2 separate regions of the Homo sapiens genome follow, and region 1 is linked to region 2. The links come from fine-mapping of genetic effects on gene expression. A gene starts in region 2. The other region holds a variant in brackets. All regions are shown on one strand. Distances are between the middles of the regions. Region 1 overlaps LOC105371334 (a long non-coding RNA gene). Region 2 holds the start of CHST4 (carbohydrate sulfotransferase 4).

The links. PIP is the estimated chance that this variant, and not a neighbour inherited with it, causes the effect. A credible set is the group of variants that fine-mapping cannot tell apart.
Region 1: its variant is the best candidate, but not a certain one, in a credible set for the expression of CHST4 in adrenal gland (GTEx, PIP 0.53).

Annotation. Positions count from the first base shown.
Region 1 is chr16:71,600,118-71,610,386 of GRCh38, forward strand. The region is part of intron 2 of LOC105371334 (a long non-coding RNA gene); the gene reads right to left. Among named protein-coding and RNA genes, the nearest start is that of MARVELD3, 21 kb to the right of the region's middle. RefSeq lists a silencer at 7,857-7,906. The variant A/G (reference allele first, on the strand shown) is at 5,398.
Region 2 is chr16:71,520,219-71,530,487 of GRCh38, forward strand. It overlaps CHST4 (carbohydrate sulfotransferase 4), which reads left to right and starts at 6,208. Exons shown (of 2, transcript NM_001166395.2): 1 at 6,208-6,277. RefSeq lists an enhancer at 5,841-6,451.

The sequences.
Region 1 (10,269 bases), 80 kb after region 2:
TCCATCTCAAAAAAATAAAAAACAAAAAACTTTTTGCTCCAGCCTGGCCAACATGGTGAAACCTCGTCTCTACAAAAAAAATACAAAAATAAGTTGGATATGGTGGCATGTGCCTATAATCCCAGCTACTCCAGAGGCTGAGGCAGGAGAATCACTTGAACCCGGGAGGCAGAGGTTGCAGTGAGCTGAGATCACGCCACTGCACTCCAGCCTGAGTGAGGCTGACTCAAAAAAATAAATAAATAAATAAAAATTTTTAAAAAAACATAAATAAACAAAAAAAATTAAAAATTAGCACCTGCAGATTGTCCTGGCTGCTTGGGAGGCCAAGGTGGGAGGATGGCTTGAGCCCGAGAGTTTGAGGCTGCAGTGAGCTATGATCATACCGCTGCACTCCAGCCTCGGCCACGGAGCAAGACCCTGTCTCTAAATTAAAAAAAAAAATTAAGAAACAGAAAAAAAGAAATAGATCATTTGTTCCTCTGTGTGAAAGTTAACTTGGAGCAAATTCTGGGGGATAGGGGATGTGGAGGTAAAGACTGCAGCCTGCTGGGGGTGACATGCATTCCCAGAGAAGGAAAAGATGCTGAATGGAGAAGTCTCAACGTGGTGAACAGCACTCTTTGTTTGTGTCCAGACTGTACTGGAAACTGGCTCTTAGAGTCAGAGTTCCAGAGTTCCACCCTCCTTGGTCCTAGCCTGCTTCTTGCTTTCATCCACCTTCCTTGGGAGATTGTGAAACCCACGTTGGGAATCACCAACACCAAGGTACGATTGGGAGAGGCGGGGCATGAGAGCAGGATAGGGCACACAGCGAACATCAGTGTGCAGAAGGTCGCCCAGGCCCACAGATGGGCTGATGCAGGTGCCGTTCCTTGGCAAGGACTGTCCATGTGTCATCACTGACCTCTTCAGGTCTAGAGAACTGCAGTTTTCTCCAGCACCTCCTGGACTTCATCCATGGGTGCTATGACAGAAAACAGAACGATGTTCAGAGGGCACTGTGCAGTCCTCAAACCGTGGAGAGGCCCAGAAGAGAGACAAATAACTACACAGGACTCCAATCTGCTATGGCTATGTTTCAGATGTAGGCCACAACAGTTCTCTTTGTTTGGAAAAACAAAGTGGCAAAACACATTGTGACACAAAAAGATCTCAGCCGGGCGCAGTGGCTCATGCCTGTAATCCCAGCACTTTGGGAAGCCGAAGCAGGCAGATCAAGAGATCAGGAGATCAAGACCATCCTGGCTAACACGGTGAAACTCCATCTCTACTAAAAATCCAAAAAATTAGCCGGGCATGGTGGCGGGCGCCTGAAGTCCCAGCTACTCAGGAGGCTGAGGCAGGAGAACGGCGTGAACGCAGGAGGTGGAGCTTGCAGTGAGCCGAGATGGTACCACTGCACTCCAGCCTGGGTGACAGAGCAAGACTCCGTCTCAAAAAAAAAAAAAGATCTCTATTCTTCGGTCCAGGAATTTTACTCTTGAGAATGTATCCTAAAAAATAAATGGCGTGGAAATAAATCTTTGGTCTATAGTGTTTAAAATCCTGGACTTCAGTATTAGAGAAACCCAGATTTTGAATCCAGTATCTACCACTTAAGTCAACTGTGACCTTGGATGAGTTACTTAACTTCCACTTCCTCACCCGCAAAACGAAGATAATAATTTTCCTACTTTGAGCTGGGCATGGTGGCGTGTGCCTGCAATCCTAGCTACTCGGGAAGCTGAGGCAGGAAGACTGCTTGAGCCCAGGAGTTCAAGATAAGCTTTGGCAAAATAGCGAGATCCCTCTTGCTCTCAAAATAATAATAATCATCATCATCATCATCTTCCTATTTCACAGAGTTTTTGAGAAATATGTAAGATAATGCAGTAAAGATCAGTGCATAGAAGGCCAGGCGCGGTGGCTCATGCCTGTAATCCCAGCACTTTGGGAGGCCGAGGCGGGAGGATCACCTGAGGTTGGGAGTTCGAGACCAGCCCCACCAACATGGAGAAACCCCGTCTCTACTGAAAATACAAGAAAGTATCCAGGCGTGGTGGCGGGCACCTGTAGTCCCAGCTACTTGGAGAGGGTGAGGCAGGAGAATGGCATGAACCCGGGAGGCAGAGCTTGCAGTGAGCCAAAATTGCGCCACTGCACTCCAGCCTGGGTGGCAGAGCGAGACTCTGTCTCAAAATAATAATAATAATAATAATAAATAAAATGTAAATAATATTTTTGCAGACAAAGCCTTTATAGGATATGCAAAAATGAAAATAGTACATAGTTAGAGGAGGGGTTATTTTTTACATTATTACATTACTTTTAAAATTAATAAGGCTAGGAGTACTGGCTCACTCCTGTAATCCCAGCTGTTTGGGAAGCCAAGATGGGTGTATTGCTTGAGGACAGGAGTTTGAGACCAGCCTGACCAACATGGCAAAATTCTGTCTCTACTAAAAATACAAAAATTAGCTGTACGTGGTGGTGTGCACCTGTAATCCCAGCTACTCAGGAGGCTGAGACAGGAGAATAACTTGAACCCAGGAGGCGGAGGTTGCAGTGAGCCAAGATTCTACCATTGCACTCCAGCCTGGGTGACAGACTGAGACTCTGTCTAAAAAAATAAATAAATAAAATTAATATATATACATGATTTTATAGACCTTTTCTGAAAACAAGGGATGCTTTGAAAAAGGCGTCACAATCTGGGAAAATTCTTTTTTTTTTTTTTATTATACTTTAAGTTTTAGGGTACATGTGCACATTGTGCAGGTTAGTTACATATGTATACATGTGCCATGCTGGTGCGCTGCACCCACTAACTCGTCATCTAGCATTATGTATATCTCCCAATGCTATCCCTCCCCCCTCCCCCCACCCCACCACAGTCCCCAGAGTGTGATATTCCCCTTCCTGTGTCCATGTGATCTCATTGTTCAATTCCCACCTATGAGTGAGAATATGTGGTGTTTGGTTTTTTGTTCTTGCGATAGTTTACTGAGAATGATGATTTCCAATTTCATCCATGTCCCTACAAAGGACATGAACTCATCATTTTTATGGCTGCATAGTATTCCATGGTGTATATGTGCCACATTTTCTTAATCCAGTCTATCATTGTTGGACATTTGGGTTGGTTCCAAGTCTTTGCTATTGTGAATAATGCCGCAATAAACATACGTGTGCATGTGTCTTTATAGCAGCATGATTTATAGTCCTTTGGGTATATACCCAGTAATGGGATGGCTGGGTCAAATGGTATTTCTAGTTCTAGATCCCTGAGGAATCGCCACACTGACTTCCACAATGGTTGAACTAGTTTACAGTCCCACCAACAGTGTAAAAGTGTTCCTATTTCTCCACATCCTCTCCAGCACCTGTTGTTTCCTGACTTTTTAATGATTGCCATTCTAACTGGTGTGAGATGGTATCTCATTGTGGTTTTGATTTGCATTTCTCTGATGGCCAGTGATGATGAGCATTTTTTCATGTGTTTTTTGGCTGCATAAATGTCTTCTTTTGAGAAGTGTCTGTTCATGTCCTTCGCCCACTTTTTGATGGGGTTGTTTGTTTTTTTCTTGTAAATTTGTTTGAGTTCATTGTAGATTCTGGATATTAGCCCTTTGTCAGATGAGTAGGTTGTGAAAATTTTCTCCCATTTTGTAGGTTGCCTGTTCACTCTGATGGTAGTTTCTTTTGCTGTGCAGAAGCTCTTTAGTTTAATTAGATCCCATTTGTCAATTTTGTCTTTTGTTGCCATTGCTTTTGGTGTTTTGGACATGAAGTCCTTGCCCATGCCTATGTCCTGAATGGTAATGCCTAGGTTTTCTTCTAGGGTTTTTATGGTTTTAGGTCTAACGTTTAAGTCTTTAATCCATCTTGAATTGATCTTTGTATAAGGTGTAAGGAAGGGATCCAGTTTCAGCTTTCTACATATGGCTAGCCAGTTTTCCCAGCACCATTTATTAAATAGGGAATCCTTTCCCCATTGCTTGTTTTTCTCAGGTTTGTCAAAGATCAGATAGTTGTAGATATGTGGCATTATTTCTGAGGGCTCTGTTCTGTTCCATTGATCTATATCTCTGTTTTGGTACCAGTACCATGCTGTTTTGGTTACTGTAGCCTTGTAGTATAGTTTGAAGTCAGGTAGTGTGATGCCTCCAGCTTTGTTCTTTTGGCTTAGGGGATATCACCACCGATCCCACAGAAATACAAACTACCATCAGAGAATACTACAAACACCTCTACGCAAATAAACTAGAAAATCTAGAAGAAATGGATAAATTCCTCGACACATACACTCTCCCAAGACTAAACCAGAAAGAAGTTGAATCTCTGAATAGACCAATAACAGGAGCTGAAATTGTGGCAATAATTAATAGTTTACCAACCAAAAAGAGTCCAGGACCAGATGGATTCACAGCCGAATTCTACCAGAGGTACAAGGAGGAACTGGTACCATTCCTTCTGAAACTATTCCAATCAATAGAAAAAGAGGGAATCCTCCCTAACTCATTTTATGAGGCCAGCATCATTCTGATACCAAAGCCTGACAGAGACACAACCAAAAAAGAGAATTTTAGACCAATATCCTTGATGAACATTGATGCAAAAATCCTCAGTAAAATACTGGCAAAACGAATCCAGCAGCACATCAAAAAGCTTATCCACCATGATCAAGTGGGCTTCATCCATGGGGTGCAAGGCTGGTTCAATATACGCAAATCAATAAATGTAATCCAGCATATAAACAGAGCCAAAGACAAAAACCACATGATTATCTCAATAGATGCAGAAAAAGCCTTTGACAAAATTCAACAATGCTTCATGCTAAAAACTCTCAATAAATTAGGTATTGATGGGACGTATTTCAAAATAATAAGAGCTGTCTATGACAAACCCACAGCCAATATCATACTGAATGGGCAAAAACTGGAAGCGTTCCCTTTGAAAACTGGCACAAGACCGGGATGCCCTCTCTCACCACTCCTATTCAACATAGTGTTGGAAGTTCTGGCCAGGGCAATTAGGCAGGAGAAGGAAATAAAGGGTATTCAATTAGGAAAAGAGGAAGTCAAATTGTCCCTGTTTGCAGATGACATGATTGTATATCTAGAAAACCCCATTGTCTCAGCCCAAAATCTCCTTAAGCTGATAAGCAACTTCAGCAAAGTCTCAGGATACAAAATCAATGTACAAAAATCACAGGCATTCTTATACACCAACAACAGACAAACAGAGAGCCAAATCATGGGTGAACTCCCATTCACAATTGCTTCAAAGAGAATAAAATACCTAGGAATCCAACTTACAAGGGATGTGAAGGACCTCTTCAAGGAGAACTACAAACCACTGCTCAAGGAAATAAAAGAGGATACAAACAAATGGAAGAACATTCCTTGCTCATGG[A/G]TAGGAAGAATCAATATCGTGAAAATGGCCATAGTGCCCAAGGTAATTTACAGATTCAATGCCATCCCCATAAAGCCACCAATGACTTTCTTCACAGAATTGGAAAAAACTACTTGAAAGTTCATATGGAACCAAAAAAGAGCCCGCATCGCCAAGGCAATCCTAAGCCAAAGGGAAAATTCTTAAGGATATTATATATCAGAAGAAGAGTGATAAAGCTGGGTGCCATGGCATGTGCCTGTAATCCCAGCTACTCGGGAGGCTGAGGCGGGAGAACTGCTTGAGACCAACCTGGGCAACATAGTGCAACATCAACTTCATCTCAAAAAAAAAAAAAAAAAAAGGGCCGGGTGCAGTGGCTCACGCCTGTAATCCCAGCACTTTGGGAGGCCAAGGTGGGTGGATCACCTGAGGTCAGGAGTTCAAGACCAGCCTGGCCAACATGGCGAAAACCCATCTCTATTAAAAATACAAAAATTAGCTGGGCATGGTGGCAGGCGCCTGTAATCCCAGCTACCGGGTAGGCTAAGGCAGGAGAATCGCTTGAACCTGGGAGGCAGAGGTTGCAGTGAGCCAAGATCGTGCCATTGCACTCCAGCCTGGGCGACAAAAGCAAAACTCTGTCTCAAAAAAAAAAAAAAGCTATAATTCCCATTTGGGATACCAGTCTCCAAGACAGTCCCAATGACCCTTGCCTTCTGTAATTTAGACCTTGCTGTGTTCCTCCCACATTCCAGGGCTGGCTTGTGTGACCAATAGAATACTGTGGAACTAATAGCATGTGGCTTCCAAGGTAAAACTCAAAAAAGGCATTGCAGGCTGGACACGGTGGCTCACACCCATAATCCCAGAACTTGGGGAGGCCGAGGCGGGTGGATCACTTGAGGCCAGGAGTTCGAGACCAGCCTGGCCAATATGGCAAAAGCCTGTCTCTACTAATTATACAAAAATTAGCCAGACATGGTGGTGCACACCTGTAATCCCAAGTACTCGGGAGGCTAAGGCAGGAGAATCACTTGAACCTGGGAGGCAGAGGTTGCAATGAGCCAAGATTGCGCCACTGCACTCCAGCCTGGGAGACAGAGCAAAAACTCCATCTCAAAAAAAATATCGTTTTTTTTTTAAAGGCATTAAGTTTCCATCTTGGTCTCTTGGCTCTCTTGCTCTGGGAAAAGGCAGCTGCCATATTATGCTGACACCACAGCAGCCCTGTGGAGAGGCTCACCTTGGGCAAGCCAGCTTTGGAGGAGATCCTCAAGCCCTGTGAAGACTCAGGTGTCTCCATCTTGGATGCTAATCCACCATGCTGACTTCTGATTAACCCCAGTCCCCAGGAGTGCCTCCTGATTCCAACGTTGTTTACTGCCCTTTATGTAAGAATATGTACTCACTATAAATCCTCCCTTTAAGCCAAAGCAACCTTGAAGTTATCGTGCAAATTATAGGCTGTGACACACATAGCATTCTTGCCTGTTCTGGAGGGCTGCCTTTAATTCCTTTAATTGCGTCTATACGGCAGGCATGTACACCCCTTCCCTCTGGCGTATAAACCCTCTGGGAAGTAACGGTACAGTGATCTACCTATGTTGCTGCCGTCCAAGACCACACTTCCACCTGTAAATTCCCCAATAATTCATCCTCTACTGACAAACTGGATTCACCTGCCTTGTTCTTTAGTTTCTCCGCTCCTTCTGTGTTTGGGGGTTACTTTGCATACACAGCCCTTCCACAGAATAAGCCCCATTAAAGCCTAAATGACTGCAGTCCCTGACAACCTCTTGGCTGTAATGTCGAGGGAGACTCACAAACCCACAGTCAAGCCGCTCTTGAATTTCTGATCCGCAGTGTGGTAGAGAATATTTTCAGCATTTGTAGTTCATTATTGAATCATCAGTAACTCACTGTTCTCATTTAATGCTATTGATCACCTGCTCCTTCTTGCTAAGGTAATCACCCTTAATATCTTTCACGTTCACTTTTTCTCCCTCCCTAGGCCTCAGCTGGGACCTGCTCTCCCTCCAGAATATTTTGGAATGTTATTTATTTTTTATTTTTCTTTTTTGAGATAGAGTCTCACTCTGTCGCCCAGACTGGAGTGCAGTGGTGCAATCATGACTCACTGCAGCCTCGACATCCTGGGCTCAAATGATCATCCCACCTCAGCCTCCCAAGTAGCTGAGACTACAGACACACACCACCACACCCGGCTAAAAAATTTTTTTTAACAGATAGGGGTCTGCCTATGTAGCCCAGACTGGTCTCCAGCAATCATTCTGCTCTGTCCTCCCGAAGTGTTGCGGTTACAGGCATGAGCCGCCACGCTTAGCCTGAAATGCTTTTTGGTTTTTTTGTTTTGAGACGGAGTCTTGCTGTGTCGCCCAGGCTGGAGTGCAATGGCGCCATCTAGGCTCACTGCAACCTCTGCCTCCCAGATTCAAGCGATTCTCCTGCCTCAGCCTCCTGAGTAGCTGGGACTACAGGTGCGTGCCAACACGCCCGGCTAATTTTCATATTTTTAGTAGAGACGGGGTTTCACCATGTTGGCCAGGCTGGTCTCAAACCCCTGACCTTGTGGTCCGCCCGCGTTGGCCTCCCAAAGTGCTGGAATTATAGGCATGAGCCACCGTGCCTGGCCTGGAATGTTATTTTTATAACAAATTTGACTGAGGTACTTCTCTGATTAAAAGCCATCTCTGGTGGCTCCATACAGCCTGTACTCTCAAACCTAACCCCAACATGAACACATGTATTTATAAATTATATCTATGAACTGCTGTATTAACATACCATTTACATTATAAATCAGATACAGAAAAAGAGATTCCCAAAAAGACAATATTTCCAGATTAAATAGAGGTCTAGGATTTTTTCCCTTCACCACATTGAGAGGTTGTGTGCACCTGCTTGGAGACCACAGACCCAGAGAGAATACACGATCAGTGACTCATTGCCTGAGAACAATGAGTCACTGATGGTCAAATAAATATTCAATGAACTACAGATGCTCAAAATACTCGGTGAATGTCAGGTTCTCAATGAATGTCAGCTGCTACTGGTAGCTGTAAAATTTTTATTACAGAGAAGCTGAGTAAGTTCAAGATTGAAACGTGTCATTTGTGTTTGGAAGATGTCAATGATCTTAGACAGATCATTTTCAGGTTGCCAGGAAGGAGTCAGACTGTGTCTTGGGTGAGAAGAGTAGGAGAAATGACTAACTGCATATGCCTGGCTTTGCAGGCTTCTTATAATCTGACCCCTGCCTCCCTCTTCTGCCTTTTTTCCCTTTACTTCTTCCCTTGTGGTTCAAACGTAAGGATTACAGGGCCGGGAGTGGTGGCTCATGCCTGTAATCCCAGTTCTTTGGGAGGCTGAGGCAGGTGGATCACTTGAGGTCAGGAGTTCGAGACCAGCCTGGCCAACATGGTGAAACCCCATCTCTACTAAAAATACAAAAATTAGCTGGGTGTGGTGACACATGCCTGTAATCTCAGCTACTCAGGGGGCTGAGGCAGGAGAATTGCTTGAACCCGGGAGGCAGAGGTTGCAGTGAGCTGAGATCCTGCCACTGCACTCCAGCCTGGACCATGGAGCAAGACTCCATCTCAAAAAAAAAAAAAAAAAAAGGAAGGATTACAGTCCTACTCATTCCTAAAAACTCTCCTTAAGCACTCTCTCTCCTGGAAGTCACTAAAGGAAACGAAAAACTTTTGCCCCAAAATATACTTCTTTGACACATTTCAAGCTGGCTATTCAGAAGAACTGGAAATACAAGAATAGCTGAAAAGCCGTCTTTTGTGGGAGAGATTTTTATCTATAGAGAAAATCTGCCTTGATGCAGCCAGGCTTTCTCTGAAGCCCTCCTTTGTCCAAATCTAGGGAAGGTTAAGTAAGTGTCTAATACCTTTAAAGGTTTGAAAGGGGTTAGCTGTGTGGGAGGCCAAGGCTGGCAGATCACTTGAGCCCATGAGTTCGAGACCACCCTGGGCAACATAGTGAGACCCCCCCCCCGCCATCTCTACAAAAAATAAAAATAAAAAATAAAGGTTTGAAAGAAACATTCATATCTATTCTCTCTGAGAGTGGTTACCTGTGAAACTTTAGCTACATAACAAGACTACCTTCGCTAGCCAGGCCTGCTCCTTTCCCTCTCCCATAGTCTGTTGTGCCAGAGTCCAACCCCTATTCTTCCTGTAACCTCAAGATGGTATAAAAGCATCCAACCCAGCCTGGGCGCGCCAACCCAGCCCGGGCGCAGTGGCTCACGCCTGTAATCCCAGCACTTTGGGAGGCCAAGGCGAGTGGATCATTTGAGGTCAGGAGTTTGAGATCAGCCTGGCCAACATCGTGAAACCTCTTCTCTACTAAAAATACAAAAATTAGTCAGGTTTGGTGGCACACACCTGTAATCCCAGCTACTTGGAGGCTGAGGCAGGAGAATTGCTTGAACCTGGGAGGCGAAGGTTGCAGTGAGCCAAGATCACACTATTGTACTCCAGGCTGGGCGGCAGCGAGACTCTGTCTCCAAAAAAAAAAAAAAAAAGGCATACAACCCTCTTCCCTTTCTTTGAGATCTTATATTTTGTAAGACTCTCCGACACATTAATAAATTTCTATTTCTCCTATTAATCTGCCTTTTGTCAGTTAATTTTCAGCAACCCTTCAGAGGGCGAAGGGAATGCTCTCCCTTCACTCCTTCGTTGCTTTTGGTTCCTTTTTTTTTTTTTTTTTGAGAGTCTTGCTCTGTTGCCCAGGCTGGAGTGCAGTGGGGTGATCTCTGCCCACTGCAACCTCCACCTCCTGGATTCAAGTGATTCTCCTACCTCAGCCTCCCGAGTAGCTGGGACCACAGGCGCACACCACCACACCCAGCTA
Region 2 (10,269 bases):
TAAAAATACAAAAATTAGCCGGGCATGCTGGCACATGCCTATAATCCCAGCTACTGGGGAGGCTGAGGCGGGAGAATTGCTTGAACCCTGGAAGCGGAGGTTGCAGTGAGCCAAGATTGTGCCATTACACTCCAGCCTGGGTAAAGAAGCGAGACTCCATCTCAAAAAAAAAAAAAATCCCTACAATCAAAGCGAGTAGCATAGCTGAGACCCCAGGCAGAGTTATATGTCATAGGGCATGGATACAAAGATGGGAGAATGGAGGTCATCATGGCAATCTGCCATGAGCTCTGAACACACAGACCAGGGCACCTAACTCAGCCTAGGGACATAAGGAATGGTTTCCCAGAGAAGGTGATGCTGACTTGAGTTGAATCTTGAAAGAGAAGACGCAAGTTAACCAGGCAATAAAGCAGAGAGGGCGCTTTAAGCAGAGCAACCCACATGAACCAAGAGCTTTGGAGACTGAAGTGCTTCCACGTCTTTACTTTATGTGATGCATATGCCCTGCAGCTATTAACCTTTCTGCAGTTTCCTGTCTGGAATGTAGATGTGAGCCCTAGATGTGCACAGCTGTCTCCTGGCCATGAGGCAATAAGCATGAAGTTGATGGTCTGTAGAAATAAGTCACCCAATGGCATTCTTGAGCCACTGTATCCACCCCAACTGTATGACTACATGACTTCATGTCACACAGGTCAGCACCCAGGAACTCCTGTGATATCCCCTGGAGAACTACCTAGTCCCTCAGTGCTCCGTGATCTATCTCTTCTTTCTCCCTCAGTCAAGACTCTTTCTCTCTCTCTCTCTCTCTCTCTCTCTCTCTCTCTCTCTCTCTCTCTCTCTCTCTCTCTCTCACTCTCTGAGATGGAATTTCACTCTTGTTGCCCAGGCTGGAGTGCAATGGCATGACCTCAGCTCACCACAGCCTCCGCCTCCCAGGTTCAAGCGATTCTCCTGCCCCAGCCTCCCGAGTGGCTGGGATTACAGGCATGAGCCACCACACCCAGCTAATTTTGTATTTTTAGTAGAGATGGAGTTTCTCCATGTTGGTCAGGCTGGTCTCGAACTCCCGACCTCAGGTGATCCGCCCGCCTTGGCCTCCCAAAGTGCCGGGATTACAGGCATAAGCCACCATGCCCAGCCCAAAAATCTTGTTCCTTCAACCAAGCTGACTCCAGATGCTTTGCATTGTTTGGAGAAGTGGTGATGCAGTTTCTCAATGTCTAGAGTTTCAACAACACCCCTACCCTGGCCTCCACGTCACCATTGCCAAGAGTAAAGAGAGAGCACCCCAGCCTCTTCCAGCAGGTACTTCACACTGCCCTTCCCCAAGTTTTCAGTTTGGCCACCACTATCTTCCTGGAGGCCATCATTATCTGTTATTATTTCCTTTATCCTGGTTTATGCCAGTCACACAAGTAGCCCAGGATCCTCAGTTGTTCCTTATCCCTTGTGTTTCATCCCAAATGGCTCCAAATGTCTCATTTTCTGACCCCATTTCCCACCCTCCCCATCCCGACACCCTTGTTGGGATCCACAAAATCCATCTTTTCTCGAAGTGTCTTAATTTCCTCTTCACTTTCTTGCTCTAAAGGAAACTAGGTCTCCCTTGAAGACACTGCTTTCTCTGCAGTCCTCTCAAGTGGTGGCTGTTTCTTACACTCCACAATGGAATAAGTTTTCTTGTTCCTCATTGCTGCTTCCAGATTATTCTGGCTCCCTCCTTCCTAAACATTTCCAGCTTTCACTCTGATATTAACCAGACTATATGGCCCTCATTACAGTCATATGACCCCTGCCACTCTCCAACTCTACTCCTGGGACAATTCTACATGAACTCAATATCCTTAGAGATGATACTTTCAAAGCCCTGATGTCTCAAATCCTTGACCTCCTCACTCCCAAAAAACTTGCCCTCCAACTTAGTTCAGCTATAATCTTTCTGTCCTTCTTTCTCCTCTTAACCAGCTTAGATTCCATGGTTCATTATCATAATTACACCTTTGAATATCCCCTAGGCTCCCTTGCCTCTCTAATACTTCATTGTACTCTTCCAGAAAAGCAGAGGTCTTACTTAAATCTAACTCTCCACTTATCCCCACACAAGTAGTAGTAGCCGAACAGGGCTGGAAAAACTACACACCTCTGCTATCTGCTTTCATTTTAAGTTTATGACCACTCACCTTCGGCTTCACTCATCTATCTTACCTCATTACCCTAGCATAGTCACTAACGTATCCTCACAGGTGGCCACTCCATATCTTCCTCTCTCTTCAGGCTTCCATTAACTCCTTCCCCATCCTCAGACTCAGCTGACAACCTTATCCCCTCACTCACTAGGAAAATAAAAGCAATAAGAAGGGAGTTTCCACAAATTCCCAGCACATCATCTACCCACCTACCTGCAACCTCCACTCCCTGAGTTCAAGCTATTCTCCTGCCTCGGCCTCTCGAGTAGCTGGGATTACAGGTCTATGCCACCACACCTGGTGGATTTTTGTATTTTTAGTAGAGACACGGTTTCGCCATGTTGGCCAGGCTGGTCTCGAACTCCTGACCTCTGGCGATTCACCCACCTTGGCCTCCCAAAGTGCTGGGATTACAGGCGTGAGCCACCACACCTGGCCGAGAGACACCAACTCTTAAAAGGTGCCTAACTAAGCATCTCGAGGAATTTGTACTGTGTCTCTAATGAGCTCTTTTGTAGCATTTTCATCAGGGAAATGCTGGGGATCAGATCCATCCTAGGAAAGATCATTCTAGCTGCAGCATAGAGTGGGAAGGCTGGAGGGCATAAGATTGGGGATATGGGAAAAAGTGAGAGACTGTTGGCAGAAATTCAAGCAAAAAAAAAATTGAAAGGCAGACTGAAGACAGGGGCTGTTGACATATAAAGGAGGGCAAATTTGACAGCTATTTAAGGTTATTTTACCTTTAGACAGACATTGGTGATCAATGTGATACATGAGGTGACAGTCCACCGGAAGACACACTGATAGTCTCCCCAGATTTCATCCCCAGAAACTCCCTGACTAAATCATCACGGGTCACCTGAAGCAGTCTCTGACAGTTTTTGGAAGACCAGAGGTAGAATTTCAGGAGCCTGATTCCAGATAAAGCCACAATTATGCAGCAATGTTATGTTCCTGAACCATCAAAGACATATAAGGGATGCCTGAGTTTTACTAGGAGCTCCTGGCTCATTATTTCCTATTTTCCCATCCCCTCTGCCCTTCAAGGGAGCAACAAAAAAGCAAGAACCAGTGAAAAACTTAAAACTGTGTTCGTTTTTTCCCTAATCTATTCTAGTCCAACTTATTCTCCCACTGTTGAAACAAATATTTCTAACACAGATAAGGGACATCGTATTGCTGGGGGATTCCCTACACAGATGTCCACCACCAGGGCCCAGCTCAAGGAAGCAAGTTCTACTGAAAGCAATTACCCATTTGATAATAGGATTTACAGCAACCAAGATTTCCTTCCTGGCTTGCAGACACTTCTTCCGAAGGCGCTGGCTCCCTGTGATGCTAAGATCCAGTCTCTATAGACTTCAGAAACTTAGCCAAACTACAAAGCCCTCCAGAATCTATTCTCTAAACTCAGCCACTTAGCCAGTGACCTACTCAGGCCAGACACTGGCTTTGGTAAGCAAAACAGGGCTGGTGACCAATGTAGGGAGTGACATGTTCCTCAACAGTTTCAGGCCTGGACATCTGCATTGCAGGCTGATGCTTAGCGTAAAAAAATGAGGAATGCTAGAGCCCCCATAAGAAAAGAAACTCAAGGAAGCATCACTGTCCTTTCAGTGTCACTAGGGACAGAAAAGATATGTAGGTAAGTGTGGAAGTGAAGAAACTGCAATCTCATTTGGAGTGATGGTCAGGGTAAGGTAGCAGGAGTAGGTAGTATAACCAGCAGAAAGATCCTTTTGACCCCTGAGAAAATCAGAGTCTAGGTCAGTAGCTGACCCCAGGTCTCTTCACCACTCAGGTGGGTCCCCAGACAGTAAAGATGGTAAACTTCCAAGGGCAAAGATGAGATCAGCGACTCCGCTGAATAGTGGTCCCCAGGAGACAATTGTCTAAATCACTTCAAGTACACACAGCCTTTTGTACGGATTTTAAACTTGGGATTCCTTGGCATTGCACATGATTTTGTGTTTGTATATGAGCAATTGTACATTTTTCTACAGAGGTCTATATCTGTTATCAGATTTTGGAGACTCAAAAAGAAAAAGATTAGATCTCTTACTTGACTGCACGATCCAATATGGTTGCACTAGCACGTTTCAGGTGGACAGTGGCTACTGTATAGTGCAGATATGGAACATTTCCATCATCACAGAGACTGTTATTGGACAGTGCTGCCTTAGAGACGTGGGCTGCAGGACTTCCACAAGAAGGCCTGGATATCAGACACCAGCATTCAAATTTCTTCCCAGTGCTGTGGAATGTGGTAGACCCTTGGAAGTCCAGTATCTGAACATGCTGGTCACCACCGTATACTAGTGACCAGAGGATGCCTTTCTTCAGCTGCTTGGCATTCTGCCAGCATGAATTCCTAGCACGGGAAAGATGGCAGGTGATCTGAATTACTTGGGGTTATGGTGTATTTGAGTGACCTCACTATATTTGGGAAGGCGCTGGAAAAACACGAAAAGAATGTTAGAAAGGGCTGGAATAAAACTACAGGAGTCCCCTCTTTATCCACGGTTTTGTTTCCCAGTTTTAACTACTCATCATCAACCACGATTTGAAAATATTAAATGGGAAAATTACAGAAATAAACAGTTCATTTATTACATACTATTCTGAGTAGCATGATGAAGCCTTGTGCCATCTCGCTGTGTCGTGCCAGCACCTGAATCATCTCTTTGTGCATAAAAGCAAAACTACCGACTGCCCAGTTCTAGTGCTTCCAGTTACACCTCTGCCCAAAGTCCTTCACTGGAGGAAGAGAAATTTCTCTTCTCTCTGCCAGAGAGAAACAGGAAGGGAGGAAGAGCCACACAATTGAAATCAAGTCAAGGCAAGCACCACAGGTTCTTGTCATTTGTGCTTAGCGGACTTAGCTGATGGAAATCGGCAAAGATCATCCCAAAGCTCACACAACTCCCTGCCTGCTCTCTCTCTCTTCCAAGGTCTGGAAAAGGAAGTGGCAGCTGAGTTGCGGGGGTGGGTGGCGGTGGGAAGGTATTATTATTCAACCACTTTTTAACTCTTATATTGTCATATTATTGTGTTAGGAGCTTCATACGCATTAATCCTAACATTCACAACAATACTGTAAAATAGATATTGTTACCCTTATTTAACACCGATGATATTCTAGGGCTCAAAGAGGTGGTATGACTTGCCCGGCAAGATCTTGGACTTGAAAGTCTGAGGCTTCCATTCTCCACCACAATTTACGTTTATTCACGGGCATCCATTGTTTCAGACTCATGACAACCGTGTAAAGTAGCACGGAGTAGGTAAGTGATTTGCCCAAGGGCACACAGCAAGGGAGAGGTTGTAATCTTTAATGATAATTTGTTTCTTTTTTTCTTAAAGGGGACTTTTTTTTCTCCTGTACCACCAAGCCAGTACATCTATGTCCTCCCAGAAAATATTTATTACCTCTTGTAGCAAGGGTGAAGATATTGAATACAACACAGAGGCTGAGAAATGTTACCTCCCTAGACCCAGGGTGGAGTGAGCAGGCAGGTGTAATGCAAGAAATAACTTTCACATTTTCTCCTTGGAGATAAGAACAAGGTCTAAAAATCAGGTTTGAGATTTTGTAGCCTTTCGGCTTGTAAGTGTCATGAAATTTCCCTATCAGCCTCATCTACTAGCTCCCTGGGTCTCTCTCTCTCTCTTTCTCTTTTTCCCCACCTCCCCACTCTGCCCATAGGGAGTTGACCTTCACAGTTGCCTTTCAGTAGTCAACATGCCAGGATGCCTCCAGTCTGGGGGAAAATGCTTCCTCATTTGCTTCTCCCAGCCCACCTCAAGCAGTCTCCCCACCCCTTGAGTCTCAGCAGTGTTAAAGCTGTTACTTTCACAGCTTCCTGGGAGCGAGTGCTTTCTCAAGCCCGTCTTGCAAGGTGGGTCCTTTTTTGTTTTTGGCAGAAGGGAGGGACAGTGAAATGTGCTCTGAGTAGGGACGGTTATGCAAAAGCAAGTAGGAGGAGGAAGCCAAGAGGGGAGTTGGTGAGTCAGAGGAGAAAAGCGCATGGCCCGGCTAGCAGTGAGCCTCTCAAAAGCAGCAGGGAAGCCCAAGCCACAAGGTAAGAAGAGAATTTCTGTGTACGACTCCAATGCAGAGCCATTACCCAGAGCTGCTGGAGCAAGAGTATCAGATAACCTCTGGCAGCTAAGCTAGAGATTACAGTGGCGAAGGCGGTTTGCGCAGAGGGGATAAATCAGATCACCTGGGGAATTTTCTGGGTAAAATAAAACACAAGCTGCTTACCAGCAGCCCCCAAGCCCCACTAGCTCTATCCCTAAATGGGTCCAAAAGAGCCCAGAGAGCAGATCAGGCTGTTCTGATGTATATTTTGTAGATGGTCCCCTGGTGCCAACTGACTCGTTCAGATCCTGGCTTTGGAGCTCAAATTTCTGTACTTCCTGCAGCTTCTCCTCTGTTTTCTGCTGGGGAGTGGAAGACAGGAGGTGCAAGGAGCTGTAGGTTTTCTCTAGCTCAGGAGAGGGACAGTGTGATCATTGAAAATTCTCAGCCCTGGGATCCCCAAAACCTGGGTTCTGATCCAGAAAAGGCTATTTATACCGGATGAGCCAGTCAATTAAAGTTTAGTTTATTTATTCTGAAAAATGAAGAAATGTCTCATCACTGTCTAAAATATCTAACCGATCAGTATCATAATTGCAGCTAAAAGGGCTTTAAAAATGTGGAACACCACGCACATGTGCAATATGATTAAGTTATGGTGCCAACATATCAGCTATGGTAGAAGATACGTCTATCTTGCATGGCCTTGGACAAGTATGAAACTTCTAATTGGAATTGAAATACTTTTCTATGTGTAAAATAAATGTAATATTGTCGATGAAAAGAGTCAGACTCTGTGACATATTTGAAGAGATTTATTCTGAGCCAAATATGAGTGACCATGGCCGGTGACACAGCCCTCAGGAGGTCCTGAGAACATGTGTCTAAGGTGGTCGGGGTGCAGCTTGGTTTTATACACTTTAGGGAGACATGAGACTTCAATCAAATACATTTAAGAAATACATCTAGCCAGGCGCGATGGCTCGCGCCTGTAATCCCAGCACTTTGGGAAGCTGAGGCAGGTGGATCACCTGAGGCCAGGAGTTCAAGACCAGCCCGGCCAACATGGCGAAACCCTGTCTGTACTAAAAATACCAAAAAAATTAGCTGGGCATGGTGGCAGGCACCTGTAATCCCAGCTACTCAGGAGGCTGAGGCAGGAGAATCGCTTGAAACCGGGAGGCTGCAGTGAGCCGAGATCCTGCCATTGCACTCTAGCCTGGGCAACAAGAGCAAAACTCCATCTCAAAAAAGAAAAAAGAAAAGAAAAAAGTACGGGTCTGTCGCCCAGGCTGGAGTGCAGTGGTGCGATCTCGGCTCACTGCAACTGAGAGGAAGCCTTCAGATAGCAGGCTTCAGAGAGAATAGGTTGTAAAATGTTTCTTATCAGACTTAAGGTCTGTGTTGGTGTTAATGCTGGAGAGGTATGATGAGGCATGTTAGATCCCCACTTCTTGTCATGGCCTGAAACAGTCTCTCAGGTTAAATTTTAAAAAGACCCCTGGCTGGGCACAGTGGCTCATGGGTGTAATCACAGCACTATTAGGAGACTGAGGTCACTTGAGGTCAGGAGTTCGAGACCTGCCTGGCCAACATGGCAAAACCATGTCTGTACTAAAAATACAAAAAATTAGCCAGGTCACTCGGGAGGCTGAGGCAGGAGAAGCGCTTGAACCTGAGGAGTCGAGGTTGCAGTGAGCTGAGATCGTGCCACTGCACTCCAGCCTGGACAACAGAGCAAGACTTCATTTCAAAAAAAAAAAAAAAAAAAAGAGTCCTGGCTGAGGAGGAAGTCCTTTCAGATGGTTGGGGGGCCTTAGAATTTTATTTTTGGTTTATAATATCTTGCTCAATCTTCCTTTCTGGGTCTCATATAGTAAAAAAAAAAACACTGTACAAATATATGTTCACTTGTCATTTGTTGAAAGATGTTCCTTGAGCACCTACTATGTGCCATGCACTGTCCTTGGCACTAGTGACACAGCCCTGGCGGGACCCAGGTCCAATCCTCCTGACACTGTCTAGGAAGAGTTTGTTATATGGACACCCTTTACCCAGGTGCCTAGCTTCAGAGGTTTTCCAGGTCTTCAGGCTGCTTGTGAGGATGCCAGTTTCCCCAATCCAACCCCATTCTCTCTCTCTTTGCTCAAGGTATCTTCTGCTGTATCTAATTTCTACTTGTAAGGGGCATAATCTCATGGGAAGTGTAAGTTAGGAATGCATCCAGTGGCTGGAACCCAGACTTCTTAAATTAGTATCTATCTGGTTTTTTTCCCCCTCAGAATTTCCCATTTTGTCTCTACGAGGCTACATGGTACCGATTTGGGGGACATCTATAATTCAGCCCACTCTAATCAGCTGCTGCTTGAGGTCACCCATCTGGCACCTTCGTGGTTCCTGTGCCAAACATAGATTCTCCCTTCTCACCACCCTTTGGTGGCGTTTTCAAGTTCCTAAGGTTCTCTTGACTCCTCAGAAATGGCTGTCCTTTGTGTTTTAAGATGATACCGTTCACCCATCGTTGGGGCAACATTTTTTTAAATTAATTTTTTGGGGTGGTGATGATGGAATGTGCTGAGTTTGGGTTTTTTGTTTTGTTTTTGTTTTTTGTTTTTTTTTTTTTGCTTTTGCTTTGTTAGCCTAGTAACTGAGCTGATTCAAGCAAGGTAGCCTATCACCCAGCAATGAGGCTTTTATTTTTTAAATGTTTTCTAAAACTAATTTTCATACAGGAAGAGAAAAATAATTTCCCTCCTGGTTTTAATTAATGCATGCTTGGTATAGTAACTGTTTTTTGGACCAAGGGTTACTGTGCCATACTGCATCTAACCCATGCCTCTGACTTTATTAGTAGCTTGGTCCAAGTAACTGAGACGGCATGGGTAATGTGCTCACTGTTCCATGCAATCACCTAAATTTTAGTCACTGATGCTGAAGAGTGTCCGTGTGCATTTCAGAAAAGGATACTTATGTTTCATTCTCTTGAAGGAGCTCCTTTAGTTTTCTGCTTTCTAGCAATTACTGTGCCTCTTCCCATGCTCATCTATTTTTTTTTTTTTTTTTTTTTTTTTTTTTTTGAGACCAAGTTTCGCTCTGTTGACCAGGCTGGAGTGCAGCGGTGTGATCTTGATCAGGAGATCAAGCCCACACTCATCTATTTACTCACTTACTCATTTATTTAGCAAGTGTTTAATGAGCCGAGCCCTGATCATTTGTAGAATTGTTATGTACGTGTAAGTAAGATAAGATACAGCCTTTCCCTTAAGCTATAGTGGCCCAGAGAAAAGAGAGGCACCCATACAGGCTTTTACTGTCAAAAGGGATGGCTGCTAACAGAAGGTCTGGGAAACAAATTAATCTCAAGAGGGGGCTGGGCGCGGTGCTTCACACCTGTGATCCCAGCACTTTGGCAGGCCGAGGCGGGAGAATCACCTGAGGTCAGGGGTTCGAGACCAGCCTGACCAACATGGCGAATCCCCATTTCCACTAGAAATACAAAAATTAGCTGGGCGTGGCTGTAATCCCAGCTCCTGGGGAGGCTGAGGCAGGAGAATCGCTTGAATCTAGGAGGCAGAGGTTGCGGTGAGCTGAGATCATGCCACTGCACTCCAGCCTGGGCGACAGAGCAAGACTCTGTCTAAAAAATAAAATTAAAAAAAAAAAGTCTCAGGAGAAAGAGACAGAACTTCTTTCAGGGAGAAGGCAGGCTCTCCCTTTCAGGGAGAAGGCAGGTTAGATTCTTGAAGGAATAGTAGCTGTCCTGCAAAAATCTCAGGGCTTTTAAATAACAGGGCAAGTTTGGAAGAACTGAAAGTCGGGAGCCTAAGGCACTAAAACAGAAGGGAGTGACAGGAAATCAAGACCAGGCCATGAAGGACCCCAGGTGCGAGGTGTGGGGATGTTTATTTAATCCCATATACACTGGAAATTTATTGAAGGATTTTTAAGCAGGAAGTTGATAGACTTATGCTTTAAAAAGATATTTTGGCC